3 separate regions of the Homo sapiens genome follow, and regions 2 and 3 are each reported to be linked to region 1. Evidence: microRNA targets listed by miRTarBase, many of them from high-throughput screens and not tested one by one. Region 1 holds a microRNA gene; each other region holds the end of a gene's coding sequence.
The links. Region 1 holds the annotated microRNA hsa-miR-1301-3p (UUGCAGCUGCCUGGGAGUGACUUC, at 1,403-1,426, shown strand). A microRNA usually pairs through its seed, bases 2 to 8, with sites in the 3' UTR of a target mRNA and lowers its output. Matches are read on the target gene's strand: a 7mer-m8 pairs with bases 2 to 8, a 7mer-A1 pairs with bases 2 to 7 and ends in A, and an 8mer does both.

Region 1 (3,136 bases):
GTTTTTCTCTTCTTGCTCTGTTAGTTTTCTAGTACAGGCATTTCCAAGCTTTTGGAGGAATTCTATTGCAAATGTTTGTTTATAGGGCAATGTTTTGTGTTTTCTCTCAGAACAATGTTATGAATGGTTATGAGGTTCCCAAGCTGGTTTCCAAATGCCTCTTTGGCCCATACAGTAGGTGAAATGTGCAACGCGTGTGCCTGTGTCGGAAGGCCCGCCCAGCATCCTCTGGCTCCAGGTGCCCCAGCGTGTGCAGCATGAGGGGGGCTGTGTGCGTGTGTGAACCTGTGCGCCTGGGTCATCTCTGCATTTGTCTAGGTATATCTCTGTGTGTGCATCTATGTGTGTTTGTATCTGTGTGTCTGTGTGTGTGTGTGTGTGTGTGTGTGTGTGTGTGTGTGTGGGGTCTGCATGACTGTGAGAGACTCCTGAGGCCACAGTGGCAGGTAGACATTCTCTGGTAAATACATTCCCCATTCTAGTGGCACGGGGCCTGGGCTGGAGACTTAGGGGCATCAGCTGGGAGGGGGAGCCTGGCACAGCAGCCGTTCCTAGGAGTGAGCACAAGCCACTCTGAAGTGTGGTCTGAAGCCAGAGTCTAGGTTTCCTAAGAACATATGGCTTGCCTTTCTTTCTGATCAAGCACATAATAATTTTTAAATGATCATTTATTGAGTACCTGCCACGTGCCAGGCCCTATGTTAAACACTTGACTCAGATTCCCTCCTATCTTAAAATAGACTTATGAAATAGGGACTCTTTCTCACCCCGCTTTACAACTTGGGAAACTGAGGCCCGAATCTCTCAGTGACAGAGCCAGGGTTTGAGGCAGGGACTGCTGGAGGCAGGGCCCATGGTTCTGAGATGTGCTGCTCAGAACCCTGGGCTCTTCTCCCTCCCTCGGCCCCCTCCACAAATGGTTTGTTTTTGTTGGGACAGACGATGAGGAGAAAGGCGGCCCTGTGGGAAATCTGAGAGCAGCGAGCTCCCTTCCTGCTGAATTGGTTGGGGTGGTGGGGGACGAGCTCCAACAGCCGCTCCCAAGCCCTGAAGACCCTTTGGGGGACCTCCTGGTTTTGACCCAAGAGGGAGCTGGTTTAGGAAGTGGGGTTGGGGGACTGTGGCCATGGACGGTGTGGGGAGAGGGTGGTCACAGGCCAGACAAGGACTCAGCCCCCCTGATTCCTGTGGTTCACTGATAGCCTAGGCCCTCACCAACCCCTTCACCTTGGGGATCTGGGGCAGGTGAGCCTGCAGACCCACAGCAGGTGTATGTTCTGCCCTCGGAGCTCCTGCAAACAGCCTTTCCACTGACGCAGTGCCTTGGGGGCTCTGCCAAGCGACCCCTAGAATGGGGATTGTGGGGGGTCGCTCTAGGCACCGCAGCACTGTGCTGGGGATGTTGCAGCTGCCTGGGAGTGACTTCACACAGTCCTCTCTGCCTCCAGGGTCACCCGGAACGGGGTTGCGGGGGACAAGCTGTGGGCGGGGGGGACGGGCAGCAAGATACAACGCATGAACTCTGACCTCGTCTCTTTGAGAAATCAGACACATCTATATACGCATGGAACACTCAATGACCCCTGGGTGGGTGGTCGAGGAGAAGGGGACGGTGTTTTGGGGGAGGAGAGATGTTGGGTTGAAGGACTGGGAGAGAGGAGCTGAGTGGGCCCTGTGGGAGAGGGTGGGAGCCAGGGGTGTCATTCCGGGACAGCAGCCGGGCCTGGAATGATGCAGCTGGGAGAGGTGGGGGCACGGCCAGAGCAGTGGGCGGAGGCTGCGTTGTAGCCAGCCCTGGTGAGACCAGGCCAGAGCGTATATTTTACCACGTGTGCAAATCTTTGGCATCACCGGATTTTTAAAAATAATAGCTTTAAGATATAATTCACATTCCATACAGTTCACCCATATAAGTGTACAGTTCGATGGTTTTAGTACATTCACAATCAACTTTTTAAAATTGTCATGAGGTGTCATAGGTTTTCATAGAGGGAGCCATGTGTGGGCAATCCTTGCTGATAGGGTGGGGTGGGAGGTAGAGATGCCAGAGGCAGGTGGACCCGCTCCAGGGCATCTACCAGGTTATTGTGCCACAGACACAAGAGGTACAAAGGGCCTGGAGGGAATAGGGGGACGAGAGAAGCCCAAGGACCAGGTACCTGCTGGATGTGAGGACCCAGGGGAAAGGTGGGACCTGAGTTTTCTCCAGGGTTTGGGACTTAGGCAGCTGAAGGGAGGGGAATGTTACTTCCACATAGAGGGAAAAACCAGAAAATAGAGCCGGCTCTGAAAGAAGCATGTTCTGGAAGAGTAGGATTTTAGGGACTGCAAGTCATCCAGTTGGGATGAAAATAAATAGAGCTGGAGCCCCTGGCAGTAGGAGGCGTATGTTAACTTATGCCCAGGTGTCTTAGAGGAAGAGCATTTAGAGAGAAGCTGAAGGTAGAACATGACCTTTGAGGAGCACCCACCGTGCAGAAGTGGGATCAAGACTCCCGGACAGCCCCAGAGACAAAGCTGCAGAATCTGAGGCTGGAGACCCAGAAGCAAGGAGCCAGATGGAGTCATGGCTGGGAGAGAACACACAGAAGGCAGTTGCTGGTGAGCTCCAGAAGCAGGGGTCTCCTTTCACTCCAGGGCCCGGCTCCACAATGGCACTCAAGAAATGGCTGTTGAGTGAGTGCTTGAAGCAGGGAGTGATTAGCTGGCCAGGATGTTGAATTGAGCTCAAGGGCCATGAGGATGGAAAAAAGCCCTTTGGGGCCGCGGGTGACTGTATCAGTCAGGGTCCATTCAGAAGACAGAAACCACATGGTGATTGGAACAAGGAAAGTTTCACATAACGAATTATTAACTCTAATTGGATTGGAATAATGAGGAATTGGCTAGTAAGAAGTAAAAATAACTCCAAAGAATACAAAAATAATAGATATGAGAACAGCCCCTACCTCTAGGGTTGCCACAGAGTGCCCAAGGAAGAGGCCCCGCAGGGTTGAGATCCACACCTTGATGGAGAGGGTGTGGCGATGGCTCCCTGGATGGCAACGTCTCTGTAATGCCATGTTGGCAGAACTTGCTGGAAATCCACCCTCTGGAATTTACTGGAAATCCATCTTTTTGGGTCCCAAGGAAAGTT
Region 2 (3,136 bases), not on the chromosome of region 1:
CTTGCTTGTTTCCAATGGCCACCTCCCCAAAGCATGTGACGCCAGTCCCGAGTCCACGCCACTGACAGGACAGCTCCCCGGGAAACAGAGGGTGCCACTGCTGTTGGCACCAAAAAGCTAGGTTTTGTCTACCTCAGTTCTTGTCATACCAATCTCTACGGGAAAGAGAGGTAGGAGAGGCTGCGAGGAAGCTTGGGTTCAAGCGTCACTCATCTGTACATAGTTGTAACTCCCATGTGGAGTATCAGTCGCTCACAGGACTTGGATCTGAAGCACAGTAAACGCAAGAGGGGATTTGTGTACAAAAGGCAAAAAAAGTATTTGATATCATTGTACATAAGAGTTTTCAGAGATTTCATATATATCTTTTACAGAGGCTATTTTAATCTTTAGTGCATGGTTAACAGAAAAAAATTATACAATTTTGACAATATTATTTTTCGTATCAGGTTGCTGTTTAATTTTGGAGGGGGTGGGGAAATAGTTCTGGTGCCTTAACGCATGGCTGGAATTTATAGAGGCTACAACCACATTTGTTCACAGGAGTTTTTGGTGCGGGGTGGGAAGGATGGAAGGCCTTGGATTTATATTGCACTTCATAGACCCCTAGGCTGCTGTGCGGTGGGACTCCACATGCGCCGGAAGGAGCTTCAGGTGAGCACTGCTCATGTGTGGATGCCCCTGCAACAGGCTTCCCTGTCTGTAGAGCCAGGGGTGCAAGTGCCATCCACACTTGCAGTGAATGGCTTTTCCTTTTAGGTTTAAGTCCTGTCTGTCTGTAAGGCGTAGAATCTGTCCGTCTGTAAGGCGTAGAATGAGGGTTGTTAATCCATCACAAGCAAAAGGTCAGAACAGTTAAACACTGCCTTTCCTCCTCCTCTTATTTTATGATAAAAGCAAATGTGGCCTTCTCAGTATCATTCGATTGCTATTTGAGACTTTTAAATTAAGGTAAAGGCTGCTGGTGTTGGTACCTGTGGATTTTTCTATACTGATGTTTTCGTTTTGCCAATATAATGAGTATTACATTGGCCTTGGGGGACAGAAAGGAGGAAGTTCTGACTTTTCAGGGCTACCTTATTTCTACTAAGGACCCAGAGCAGGCCTGTCCATGCCATTCCTTCGCACAGATGAAACTGAGCTGGGACTGGAAAGGACAGCCCTTGACCTGGGTTCTGGGTATAATTTGCACTTTTGAGACTGGTAGCTAACCATCTTATGAGTGCCAATGTGTCATTTAGTAAAACTTAAATAGAAACAAGGTCCTTCAAATGTTCCTTTGGCCAAAAGCTGAAGGGAGTTACTGAGAAAATAGTTAACAATTACTGTCAGGTGTCATCACTGTTCAAAAGGTAAGCACATTTAGAATTTTGTTCTTGACAGTTAACTGACTAATCTTACTTCCACAAAATATGTGAATTTGCTGCTTCTGAGAGGCAATGTGAAAGAGGGAGTATTACTTTTATGTACAAAGTTATTTATTTATAGAAATTTTGGTACAGTGTACATTGAAAACCATGTAAAATATTGAAGTGTCTAACAAATGGCATTGAAGTGTCTTTAATAAAGGTTCATTTATAAATGTCAGTATAGTTGGTGGTCCTTCTTTTACAAACGCAGTCATTCTGCCTTTAATTATCTTCCCCCAAAAAAGAAAAAAAAAATAGGCGAAGCAAAATCACATACTGTTTGTTTGCTCCAGGGCAGACAACACTGCTAGATTCCTGACATTTTGTTTTGAATTTTTCTACACCTGGAGCTTGTTAGTCAAGGTCTAAAATCCCTAAGTGTGGTGACCTTTCCATTTCATCCTGCCTTTTCAAAGCTGGCCCAGGCCCTCCTTTCAGTCTGACATGAGAATGGCGAGAATGGCTCACCCACCGTGCCCTCCTGCACGAAGCCAGCTGGGCCCACCTAGTCACTTGAGTTGCAGCTGCTTTCTCTCACACACCACAGGGGGCGCTGGACACATCTCTGTAAAATAATACAATTGTGCGTTTTTATGGGTGAAATCTGAGGGTAATTAAAACCAGCAGCCTAGTTACCCAGAAAGAGTGCTTGCTATGCACCTGTAGTTCAATCTTTCTTTCTTTTTCAACAAAGCCTACCCTTACACAACAGGAATTAACTAGGGGGAGAAACACCCACATACACAACTCTTCCCCAAGTCTCCTTTTCCCAAACAAACAAACAAGCTATTCTTTTAGAATTATAACCATCTTGCCTTCTGCTGAATCCACCATCAGGTGGCAGGAAATGAAAGATCAGATACAGATCAAATGAAAGCTCTAAAAGGCCTGGCCTCAGCATTACCAAACTTATTTATTAAGAGGTTCTGAGGAAATTGTTCAGAGTACCGCCACAGACCCCGTTTTCTTCTCTTAGCTCTCTGGCATACAGGCCAATGACTTCATACCAGCCAGCCTATACCACGGATGGCACAATCTCCATGCCGGTATCTTAGCACAACTGGTCTTCAGCACTGGGGCCTATAGTTCAGACAGCTGCTCAGCGGAAGAGGGTTTGCACTGCAGGCCCCTCTCTTGACAGAAGTGGAGGTGAGGCTTGTCTCTGCTTCAAGGACTCTTTCTGCCAACTTCCAACAGCAAGCTGTGCGTTCGGTCATAAGCCCCCAGAAAGATGAAACCTCCCAGACTGATGGCTGCCATTCGAGGGAAGACACCTGCAAATAATCTAGGGGAAAAAACAGGATTTTTAATGTTGTGCGTATTTTAAAAAAAGGTTAAATTCCAATACCCACAGCTTGCTCAGCTCAATACACCATGCTCATTAGTGGCTAACTACCAAACAGCTTGTGAACGCTCCCAAATAAGGCAAGTAATAGCTGTGTCCCAACAGTAGTTCTAAAACTTTCATGCCATTTTTCCCTTTGAAACATGAAATTGATTTTTTTTAAAAAGGTGTTAAAGAGCTGAATCCTAGGTAAGGCTGGAAGGCACTTCCAGCCCACACCTCTAAAGTGATCTCCAGGGGTTGCTCAGTGAAGAGATTTTTGGGCAATGCTGCCGCTCCACCCACTGACTCAGTTGCATTTTGTCCTTCGAGACCCCAAAACATGACGTCACGACAACGAGTTGAACCTCCATGGATTCCCTGTGTTCCTTTTCTGTCTAAA
Region 3 (3,136 bases), not on the chromosome of region 1:
AGTGGAGCGTGCAGACAGCTATGACAGAGGGGTAAGTGCCTACTGTCCTCTTGGATTCTATATTGCAGGTAGAGGACTGGCATGGTAATAGGTGACAGCGTTGTTGGCTTGTGCACTGGTAGCTGCTGCTAAGAATGGGAAGGGCAGTGTTTTTGACTCCTTGGAGGTCCTGGAGGGTGTTTGTGGCTTTGGCTACTCCTTGCTCCCAGGCCTGGGCCATGCAAGCACACACCTTGTTTCTCTGATGCAGGACTTGGAGAACCAGATGCATATAGCGGAGCAGCGGAGGAGAACCCTGCTGAAAGATTTCCATGACACCTAAGTTGGGATGTGGATGTGCCGGGGTGAGGAAGATGTGGCTGCAAGGTCTCCCGGCTGCCATACTGCATGCTGCAGGCTCTGCCTTTCATGACCCCAGGCAACAGCCAGGGCCCCACTCCTGAGAGACACTGGCAACACCTCTTAGTTGATTTCTGTTTTCTTCTCTTTTCACTTTTTGTTTCTACCAGGGTAGAGGCCATGTTGAACTGGCCTCTTTTCAGGACTTTTATTTCCCCCTGGATGGTTGTTGGGAGGGAGGGAAAGTGTTTTCTGAATGGCTATTAATAGTATTAGATCATTACAACTTATGTAACTTTCAAAGGTTGTACAATTATACAAAAAAAAAAAAAAGGCAAACTATAGGATAACACAGAGCCCTTTTTGAAAATAAATTGGCATTGGAGTGTTTTACCCTCTAGCTGTTTTACTTAGAATGTAACATATGCTGCCTACCCACCTCAAAATGTCTGTACTGCAAGAGGGCCCTGGGCCTCTGCTTTCCATATTCACGTTTGGCCAGAGTTGTAGTCCCAAAGAAGAGCATGGGTGGCAGATGGTAGGGAATTGAACTGGCCTGTGCAATGGGCATGGAGCACAAGGGGTCACAGCATGCCTCCTGCCTTACCGTGGCAGTACGGAGACAGTCCAGAACATGGTCTTCTTGCCACGGGGTGTTGTTGTCTCTGGTGGTGCTGCATGTCTGTGGCTCACCTTTATTCTTGAAACTGAGGTTTACCTGGATCTGGCTACTGAGGCTAGAGCCCACAGCAGAATGGGGTTGGGCCTGTGGCCCCCCAAACTAGGGGGTGTGGGTTCATCACAGTGTTGCCTTTTGTCTCCTAAAGATAGGGATCTACTTTTGAAGGGAATTGTTCCTCCCAAATAAATTTGCTTTACCTTGGTCCTTTCTTTTGTGCCAGTATTCAAGTGGTATAGCTCTGAGCAGGGTCACATTTGGCCAAACCTGACACTGTCTTGCTGCATTCTCCTTTGGCAAACATCAGGGTCAGAATTCAGGATAGCCCTTCCTAGGGCACTGGACTTTCTGGCATGGGGGCTGTGTTTGCACAAGTTATTTTCATGTTACCTGGAGAGTGTCCAGAGGCTGCTCTGAGGCTGAGGTGTGTTCCCCCTTGCCTGGTTCCAGCTGTCAGAGGGATACCATCCTAGGGTCTGGGAATCCAAGGCCACGAGACTCCTTGGTTTGTGGTCCGAGATCCTGTACTAAGGAGGGTCTGGCCAGAGGAACAGACCAGCTTTTGCACAATGAAGCGCAAGGGAACAAGTGGTTTGCCTGGTGTCCTACCTGTCCTGAACCTGGTCCTGTGGGCCATTGAAAAGTTAGATCTGTGATCTCTGGGGTTTTTGTGGCTTTGTTCAATGCTTCCACTCTAGGGCAGGCAGAGCAGTCTATACTCTCCCAAGCCTGCTTGACCTCCAAGTAGAGCTGATACAGAGATCTGTGAATATTGTGATAGAAATTCTTTGGTATTCATACATTTCAGCTGCAAGTCAGCAATTTCCCAGGTACCATGTAAGCTATAAAACAGTCATTCTTAAAGACAGAGGATAGCTGTGACTCATGGGATCATGAGGTCCATGGCTGGTTGCAGGTTCCCTTTTTCCTTCCTCAGGTTTTGTCTCTTCCTGTGTTGTCCCCAGCAAGGGAGAGACTGTGGGGTGGATTGGGAGAACAGATTAGGAGTATAGCAAATGAACCCAGAATGGAACAGTGGGGAGCTAACTGTGAATGAGGAGAGTACCTGCTGCAGGACCTGGAGGTCAGGTGTGAATGCTGTATTGGCACAGGGAATAAATATCCTGGCGTCTGGAGCCTTCACCTCTCCGTCAAGTCCTTCCTGTGATACTGCCATGGCACAGGATCTGAGTTGCAGCTCTGCACCCTAAATCACACCCTGGGCATTGTCTGGGCTGCAGGGCTGCCAGGTTCTGTACTTGTGTCCAGCTGTGGCCCTGGATGCTGGAGCTGGAGGGTTTTCTGTGCTCAGACTGTAGCCTGTAGCTCTTGGCCTGTGTAGAGCCCCCTCCTGTGCCCTCAGTGGCTGTCGTTTGTTAACATCATCAGGAAGATGGGAAAGGTCAGGCAGAATTTTTCTGCCCTACAAAGGGTGGAAGAGAAAGGACACAGTATTTTCATGAATTTACCATATATCTTTGTTTTTCTTCAACGAAAAAGTTAATTGAGGCAATGTCATCTGCTCAAAGTTGAGTGGTTTATTCACAATAAACTGTAAGTTTCTGATTATAAAAATGTGTCTAGAGTCTTTCTTCATGGGGTCTAGGTAGTCTTCTGAGCCCACAGGGGTCTGGCCAGTGAACACCAGAGGAGTGCCTTCCTATCAGTCAGCCCCTTCTTCCAGAGGGCTGTGGAGGCCCCAGTGGCCAAACTCGGCTCTGTTTTCCCTTTCTGGCTGTTGGGGGAGAGGGCACCTGTAAGTGATCCCTGTGGAATGAAGTAGAAAATCCTGCCAGTTTTCCGCTCTCCTCTCCCTCAGTACAGGCTGAATCATTCCCCACCACAGATAGATCCCAGGGTTGTGGTAGAGTACTGATATAAATGTCCCAACCCCCCCATTCTGAGACCTCCGGACCCCTCCAAAGCAGACATGGGAATGTAGGGCTGTGGAATATGGCAGGGTGAACTCCAGCTTCACGGGAGCCCTAAGGGTTATGAAGAGACAACTTGGGGCAGAAACAAGTGTGGAGTCTAATCTCAAGGGTGAAGGACAGGAAATGAGGTTTGGATTGATTAAGGGGGTCCACATTTGTGGTGTCAGAAGTGGCAGTAGTGTCA

Region 2: miRTarBase lists SLC25A26 as a target of hsa-miR-1301-3p. Seed matches in the 3' UTR shown: 8mer at 1,928-1,935.
Region 3: miRTarBase lists ARIH2 as a target of hsa-miR-1301-3p. Seed matches in the 3' UTR shown: 7mer-A1 at 359-365 and 8mer at 1,825-1,832.

What each region holds. Positions count from the first base shown.
Region 1 is chr2:25,326,941-25,330,076 of GRCh38, reverse strand. MIR1301 (microRNA 1301) reads left to right here and starts at 1,356; the gene lies at 1,356-1,437. The region is part of intron 1 of DNMT3A (DNA methyltransferase 3 alpha); the gene reads left to right. RefSeq lists an enhancer at 1-52.
Region 2 is chr3:66,377,248-66,380,383 of GRCh38, reverse strand. SLC25A26 (solute carrier family 25 member 26) reads right to left here. Exons shown (of 10, transcript NM_001379210.1): 10 at 1,461-2,694. The coding sequence ends at 2,577. LRIG1 (leucine rich repeats and immunoglobulin like domains 1) reads left to right here. Exons shown (of 19, transcript NM_015541.3): 19 at 1-1,587. The coding sequence ends at 121. Among named protein-coding and RNA genes, the nearest start is that of LRIG1, 120 kb to the left of the region's middle.
Region 3 is chr3:48,982,949-48,986,084 of GRCh38, forward strand. ARIH2 (ariadne RBR E3 ubiquitin protein ligase 2) reads left to right here. Exons shown (of 16, transcript NM_006321.4): 15 at 1-31; 16 at 251-3,136. The coding sequence ends at 322. It overlaps LOC124909376 (a long non-coding RNA gene), which reads right to left. Exons shown (of 2, transcript XR_007095903.1): 2 at 2,537-2,785. Among named protein-coding and RNA genes, the nearest start is that of P4HTM, 5.7 kb to the right of the region's middle.